Linked DNA regions of Homo sapiens. The protein of the gene in region 1 purifies or fractionates together with the protein of each later gene. This does not show direct contact. Each region holds a gene or a part of one and is shown in the gene's direction. Other genes may lie near its edges. The genes, in order: MAGEB1 and NSMCE4A.

Region 1 (4,414 bases):
AGAATACCAAAATAATTGACAGATGTGAATTAAAGAGAAAAAGAAATAATACTCGGTGACAATATGATCACCGACAGAAGCAAAATTGGATAGCTTCAAAAGATCAAAAGATTACAAAAATCATCTGGCTCCACCCTTTTCTGTAGAAAGTAAAACTTTTAGAACTACCCTTTGGTTGGTGAAGTGAAGGAATAGATCAGCATGTTTTTTTCCCTGAGAGCACAACATCTGTCCTAGGCTCTCCACCTTCCGTTTCAGTTTCCCAACATCACATCACTTCTGGGACAGGGACCTCTTCTCTGCAAGGTTTGCAAAGAGGAAACTGGTCAAATTTTTGCAGGGATGTGACATTTCCCTGGAAGAGTTTGATCAAGAGACAGAAGCCAACATGAGAACCCTCATGAATGAATGGTGGGGAGAAAACCACTCCAAAATGTAAGGGTTCATCCAGACCCTCAGGAGAGTGACCTCAGTTCAGTAGATAGAGGAGTCCCAGGTTCTGATACATGTAAAGGCGAGGAGCATAAATGAAGACTGATGGAAGGACCCAGCCAAAACTGTGGGGTTCTATGGAGTCCTTTCCTTATTATCTGTTTTTGCAGGTTGCAAAAGGACTGTGATCATATGAAGATCATCCAGGAGTACAACTCGAAATTCTCAGAAAACAGGACCTTGATGTGAGAGGAGCAGGTTCAGGTAAACAAAGGGTAAGTTACAGGTTTGCTCACTTGTCAAGGTGAGGACCTGAATGTGGACTAAGGGTAGCTAGCACCCACATGGCCTCACAAAGTCCCCTCTGCTGTCAGCCCTAGGAAGCCTTGGCGGAGATGGCAGGCTGAATTCTGCCTGGAAAGTCTCAGGGAGATGACTGGTTCCGTCTAATTGGGGCAGCCTCAGTTTTACAGAGCGAAGAGGCCGAGACCCTAACAAGAATCAATGTAGGGCTTTTAAGTGTTAAGAGGGGACTCCACCAGCAGATGAGTCCCCACAGAATTCACCCCGTTTTGAGGCATCAGACAGAGCTATCTACCTAAGGTGCCTCTCATTTCCGCCTGGAAGGTCTCATGGAGGATGGGGAGCGTGGGGCCTGAAGGGAGTAGCTTCAGTTCTGCCTGGAGAGGAAACCAGAGTCACGGTGAGGACTCTGAGAGCTGATGAGAAGGCCTCTGCCCAAAACGGGACTTTCACAGAGCCCTGCCGCTGCTGTCAGGCCTGTGAGGCCCAGGCAGGGGTGGCCTGTGTGGCACGCTCAGATTTCCACCTTGGGGGCTGAGAGAGGTGGGGCTATTGTTTGAGGCTGGCGGATTTGGGTCAGCAGGCGGAGTCGTCCCAGACTGCTAGATACTAAGGTGAGGACCCCTAGTGGGGACGTAGGGACCAGCGACGCTAGAACAGTTACGTCCAGAAGCGTACCACCCCTGCCGTCAGCCCGGAGGCCACGGGCTGCCGGATGTGGCTCATCCTGACTTCCGCTTTGAAGGCGAGGACCCCAGCGAGCGTAAGGGCGCAGTGTCCGCCTGGCGGATTTGGGTCAGCAGGCGGAAGTCGTCCCAGGCTGCTAGATACTAAGGTGAGGAACCCTAGTGGGGACGTAGGGACCAGCGACACTAGAACAGTGACGTCCCGTAGCGTCCTGCCTCTGCCGTCAGCCCTCAGAGGCCCTGGGCTGCCGGATGTGGCTCATCCTCATTTCCCTTTTGAAGGCGAGGACCCGAGCGAGCTTAAGGAGTGGGGTGCAGCGTCTGGTCAGCGGAGGGTGAATTCTCAGGACTGGTCGGGAGTCAAGGTGAGGACCCTGAGTGTAAATTGAAGAGACCACCCCCACCCGTAACAAAGAGGTCCCCTCTAAGTCCCGCTTCTGCATTTGGTCCTGGGAGGCCTCAGGTAACCAGATGGGTAGCACCCTGACTGTCTCTTCAGCGACTCAGGGAGACGAAGGCTTTGGCCTAAGCCTTATAGACTCAGGTCAATAGAGGGAGGAGTCCTAAACCCTACTACCCGTAATCCCAGAACTCTGGGAGGCCGAGGCAGGCGGATCACGAGGTCAGGATATCAAGACCATCCTGGCTAACACGGTGAAACCCCGTCTCTACTAAAAATAGAAAAAATTAGCCAGGCGTGGTGGTGGGCTGCTGTAGTCCCAGCTACTCAGGAGGCTGAGGCAGGAGAATGGCGTGAACCCGGGAAGCGGAGCTTACAGTGAGCCGAGATTGCACCACTGCACTCCAGCCTGGGTGACAGAGCGAGACTCAGTCTCAAGAAAAAAAAAAAAAAAAAAAAAAAGTCCCGCTCCTGCTGTCGGCACACGCAGGCCCCAGTCAGCCTTGGTGGGATGTGGCCCACTATGACTGTGAACTTAGGTCCAAGGAATATGAGAACTTTTGTCTACGGGGCATGGTGTTAGGAGCAGTTGATGGGTGGAGTCCCAGAAAGAGTGCTGAGTGGAGGTGGAGACACTGAGTGAGGAAATGGCGGCTACTCTATACACGAGGGAGACAATTGCGCCTGATGCTGTCCCTGGGAGTCCCAGGCCAGAGCTGGCAGGCTCAAGTACTCCCTGGCTTCTGCCTTCATAGTCTTAGAGAGAGGAGGGCCTTGGTTTAAGGCCTCACTGCCCCAGTTCAGTAGAGAGATAGGAGTCATACGCCAAGACAGGTGTCAAGGTACAATTTCTTTATGAGGAATGAGGTAACCGTCTAGTCCAGAACAGGCAGGAACACAGTCTTACCTTGGCGTTCATTCCTTAGAAGCCAGGGTTAGAACTCTCAAGTTGAGATGCCCCTCATTTCCTTCAGGTACTGTTTCAGGTACATAATGGCTTTGGTTTAACATGAAAGCCCTTGTTTAGTACAGGGAGGAGGCCCAGTTCCTAAAAGATGGTGACACTGAGGGAGTATGAGGGGACCCCCTCCAAGAAAGAGGTAACACAGATAGAGCCCTATCCCCACTGAGACCTGGGAGATCCAGGTATGGTGACATGATGAGTCTCACTCACTTCTTCCTAGAGCATCTCAGGGAAGTGGGGAACTTCATCAAAGGGGGCAGCCTTATGTTAGCAGCTAGAGGATTCCTAGGTAATTCCAGGAGTCAAAAAGAAGACCCTGAGAACTGGGGGAACCACTCATCCCATAACAGTGAAAGAAACACGGAATTCCTTCCTGATTTTCATCCTTGGGAGATGATGGACAATTGTAGCCAGATGGGAAAAGTTTCACTTCTTCCTCAGGGAGTTGTCGGGGGGTGCTTTGTATGACTGGATAGGCGTTAGATCAAGACAGAGAAGTCACTGAGGGAGGAATGAGATGAGCATTTACCTAGAGAGTGGGGCTTCACCAAGTTCTACCCCCTCTCAGCTCTGGGAAACCCCAGGCAGAAGTACCCAGATGTGTCATCCCCTCAAGACTAGCCCTGGGTACTCAGAGAGGTGAAGGCTTTTGTATGAGCCTGGAAGAATCAAGTGGGATTAGAGAGGAGCTCAGACTCTGCTTGAGTGAAGACTAAAGAGAACAACGACCCCAGAACAGTGGAGCCCCATAGAGGACGTGGTGACTGGATGTGATTCAGGCTTTCTTTCATCTTGGGACTATGAGGCAATGAGAATCTTAATCTGATGTAAGGGGCCTCAGGTCAGTAGAGAGAGGATTTCCAGGTTGTGCCAGGCCTCATAGAGAGGACTTGAGGGAACTCCCACCTCATCAGTGGGGATCCCTCAGAGTCCCTCTGTATGTCAGCGCTAGGAAGCCCCGAGCATAAATGTCAGAAATGCCCCTAAATTCCTCTTCAGAAGTAACAGGGAAATGAAGGTCTTAGTCAGATGGGTTAGCAGGAGGGGTGGGAGGCATTTTAGGCCCTCCCAGGAGTCAAACTGGAGACCTTGAGTGAGGACCATGAGTGGGGCTACACATCACAGGGCTTCAACCTGCCAGCCACAGCTTTCAGCCTCTGGAGAATATGGGCATTGTGACCAGATACAGCCACCCTCATTTCCTCCATTGGGTCTCAGGCAGATGTAGGCCTTACTATGAGTAAATGTCCTCAGGTGTAGAGAGAACAGAGCCCTAGGCCCTTCTGGGAGTCGAAGTGTGAGTGTGGACTGAAGGCACCATTCCCCCAAGCCCCCAACCCCCACCCCAAATAGAGGAAAAACAACGATGCTAGCCCTGTCTCTGCACTTAGCTCTGAAAGGCCTTGGCCAAGGGTTGCCAGGCTGAGACTTTATTTCTTTGCATCAGGTCTAAGGGAGGTGACAGCTTTGGTCTGAAGATGCAGCACCAGTTAGCAGAAGACAGGTTCCCAGAACTTAGATATAGATGAGATGAGGACTCTGAATTAAGATTGAGGTCCAACTAGCCCAGGACAGAGAGAGTTCCATAGAACTGTCAGCACTGCCATCCCGCCCAGCCCCCGGTAAGGA
Region 2 (3,808 bases), on another chromosome or scaffold:
GTTAAAGCTATTCTCCAGCTTCAGCCACCCGAGTAGCTGGGATTACAGGTGTGCACCACCATGCCCAGCTAATTTTTGATTCTTTAGTAGAGATGGGGTTTCACCACGTTGCCCAGGCTGGTCTCAAACTTTGGAGCTCAAAGTGATCCGCCTGCCTCGGCTTCCCAAAGTGTAGGGATTACAGGCATGAGCTGCTGTGCCCAGCCTGTTTCTGCATTAATTTAAATCTTTTTTTTCCATAGCTTTTCTTAAATCCCATGTCCTCTGTCAAGCCTTTTTTGAGTATCCGTCCTCGGGTCACTACCTGCTACCTGTAGACTGTTCATTTGGGTGGCTTTGCTGGGGTTGCCTGTGAAGCCATACAGAGGCATGAGCCTCCTAGTGCCAGCCTAGCACATGCCATGATTTTGGTTAGCAACTTTAGCAACTTACCTATTGCTTAGCAGCTTACCTATTGCTGTTCACAAACCACCATGCCAAGCACAGGGCCCTACATGTAGTGGGAATTTGATTTTCCTTACGTCAGCACACATGATCATCGTGATTAGGATGGAGGGAAAAGTGAGTATTAGACATGACGGGTTTTGCTCAACTGGAGTTATTTAAGAGATTGTGATTCAGCTAACAGTAGGAGAACTAGACAGAAAGCTGGCTTTTAGGAAGACTGGTCAGCTTTCATTAGAGATTTTGGTGAGTTGGGCACAGGAGAAAGTTTTTTTTTGTTTTTGTTTTTGTTTTGAGACAGCCTCTTGCTCTGACACCCAGGCTGGAGTGCAGTGGCGCGATCTTGGCTTACTGCAAGCTCTGCCTCCCGGGTTCACGCCATTCTGCCTCAGCCTCCCAAGTAGCTGGGACTACAGGCGCCCGCCACCACGCCCTGCTAATTTTTTGTATTTTTAGTAGAGCTGGGGTTTCACCGTGTTAGCCAGGATGGTCTCGATCTCCTGACCTCGTGATCCGCCCGCCTTGGCCTCCCAAAGTGCTGGGATTACAGGCTTGAGCCACCGCACCTGGCCAGGAGCACGTTTTAGAAGGAGATGTGTCAGTTGCCTATTGAGATTTTTTTTTTTTTTTAGTCCAGTGGGAAATCCTGGTAAGTAGTTGGAAATGTAGGGAAAAAGTCTATGGATAATGTGTATTTTGTAATGTGAATATTTTCTTTCTTTTTTGAATAGTGTCCCGAGCAAGAGAAGCAGTCCTGGATGCCCACTTTCTTGTTTTGGCTTCAGATTTGGGCAAAGAGAAAGCAAAGCAGCTGCGCTCAGACCTGAGCTCCTTTGACATGTTAAGATATGTTGAAACTCTAGTAAGTTCAAAGCTACAGACTCTGAATAAAAAATGTTCTGTTATATATTATAATTATTTACTGTGCTCATATCCATATGCAGATGATTTCACTTCATTCTTCTTTTTTGGTCTCAGATTCCTCTGTAGAGATCTTACCAATTTAAACAGACGAAAGTAGAACCATGTGGTGGAATCTTGGGTGGGGGCTTGGAGTAAAAATCTCGTAGCATTCTGTCTTAAGATGCTGGGTGCTATGGTCATTTGCCAATGGCCATTTTTCCTCTGTTCACTGGTGTTCTAGATCATTCTCAGTGACCTCAGACCTTTGTCCTGGGCTGGACAAAAGCCCACTCTGCGATGGCAGAGCTCAGCTGGAATTGAGTTAGGCCTGGCGAGAGGGCATGTTTTGGTCTGTCTTTGAGAATATTTCAAAACCATGTGAATATGATTGGGTTTTGCTTTTTTTTTTTTTTTTTTTTTTCCTTTGAGACAGAGTCTCGCTCTGTCGCCCAGGCTGGAGTGCAGTGGCGTGATCTCGGCTCACTGCAAGCTCTGCCTCCTGGGTTCACGCCATTCTCCTGTCTCAGCCTCCCAAGTAGCTGGGACTACAGGCGCCTGCCACCACGCCCGGCTAATTTTTTGTATTTTTAGTAGAGACGGGGTTTCATCATGTTAGCCAGGATGGTCTGGATCTCCTGATCTCGTGATCTGCCCGCCTTGGCTTCCCAAAGTGCTGGGATTACAGCCGTGAGCCACCTAGCCCAGCCAGGTTTTGCTTTTTTGGTTTTATGTTTTATTCACCTTTCTTTGTCTCTTGACAAGTTTGAATAGTGGTTACCTGCAATTCTAAAACTGTTCCTTGATGAATTTACCAAAAAAGAAAAAGCACACAGAGACTGACCTTGTATCTCACTTTGTTGTCTTTTTAAAAAATTCTATTCTGGCTGGGGGCAGTGGCTCACGCCTGTAATCCCAGCACTTTGGGAGGCTGAGGCGGGTGGATCACCTGAGGTCAGAAGTTTCAGACCAGCCTGGCCACCATGGTGAAAGCCCGTCTCTACTAAAAATAGAAAAATTAGCTGGGTGTGGTGGCAGGCGCCTGTAATCCCAGCTACTCGGGAGGCTAAGGCAGGATAATCCCTTGAACCCAGGAGGCAGAAGTTGCAGTGAGCCGAGATCGCGCCACTGCACTCCAGCCTGGGCTACAGAGTGAGACTGCACCTCAAAATCAATCAATCAATCAGTCAATCTGTCAATCTGAGCCAACCTCTGTCCTAGCACAGATAGCTGCACCTCAGTATGAATATTGCATTTCTAACTGGATGTTTATGTTAAATGGTTATTAAAATAATTTAGTACTATGAGATCTGATCAGATAATTTTTTTGTAAAGGCATGAGGCACCAGATTATTTCCAGTTTGTTTTTCAAACCTTTTCCTTTTTTTTTTTTTTTTTTAACTTTTTTTTATTGTGAAACATAATGCACTTAGGAAAGTGCACTGTAATATAGAGGTCAATAAAGTAACCATGTATTGGGTATTTCTTTAAAAATTACTTTATCAGGTTAAGCTCTATTTTTTTATTTTTTGAGACAGAGTCTTGCTCTTGTTGCCCAGGCTGGAGTGTTGCCCATGCTGGAGTGTTGCCCAGGCTGGAGTGCAGTGGCACGATCTCAGCTCACCGCAACCTCCACCTCCTGGGTTCAAGCGATTCTCCTGCCTCAGCCTCCCAAGAAGCTGGCATTACAGGTGCCTGTCCCCACGCCTGGCTAATTTTTAGTAGAGGTGGGGTTTCGCCATGTTGGCCAGGCTGGCCTCGAACTCCTGACTTCGTGATCCACCCGCCTGGACTTCCCAAAGTGCTGGGATTACAGGCATGAGCCACCGTGCCCGGCCAAGCTCTGTACTTTAAATAACATATCAAAATAAATTCTGGAAGTCTTAAAGCATTAAATATAAAACCTTAAATTAATAGTTGTCCAGTCTCTGGGTGGAGAAGACTTTCGTATGTATAGCATCAAATATAGACACTATAAGGAAAGATTGGTGGATTTCTCTGTCAGTTAAACAGACCAAAACTGCCACGTCTGCCTACAAGGGTGCAGTGGTAGTTCGGGCGGCAAGGGAATGGAGAAGAGCTGGCCATAGCGCTCTGACCAGGCTCTTGTAGCCTTTCTTTTCTTTAAAGTCTGATTGCCTTTAATAGGGTTAAGCTCCCTGAGGGTTTTGTGATTATTGTTTATATATGATATTGCCATCGTAATTGGATAACTTCTAGGCATTTTACAGTATAATGTAATAAAAATGTACTTTCATAAAAGTAAATTCAATATAACACATTTTCTGTAAGACAGTTTGAGATGAGAGAATTATTTGACTTCCGCCAACTCTTCCCAGGAAGGCAATTTTAAGATGAGCCATTCTCTCAGTGATGCCGGGCCACTGCTCTCTGGATATACTGAGATACAAGCTGAATAGAGATTTGTAGGAGGTTGGCAAAAAATTAAAATCTGAAAACCAGC

Evidence for each region.
Region 2: the proteins of MAGEB1 (region 1) and NSMCE4A purify together in Homo sapiens (affinity purification with western blotting, with the first as the bait; one study listed by BioGRID). This does not show direct contact.

The regions. Positions count from the first base shown.
Region 1 is NC_000023.11:30,245,687-30,250,100, forward strand, and holds the start of MAGEB1 (melanoma-associated antigen B1), read left to right. Parts: upstream 1-1,459; 5' UTR 1,460-1,570; intron 1,571-1,703; exon of another isoform or gene 1,704-1,786; intron 1,787-4,414.
Region 2 is NC_000010.11:121,968,437-121,972,244, reverse strand, and holds part of NSMCE4A (non-structural maintenance of chromosomes element 4 homolog A), read left to right. Parts: intron 1-1,175; coding exon 1,176-1,306; intron 1,307-3,808. UniProt on the Homo sapiens protein: Component of the SMC5-SMC6 complex, a complex involved in DNA double-strand breaks by homologous recombination. The complex may promote sister chromatid homologous recombination by recruiting the SMC1-SMC3 cohesin complex to double-strand breaks.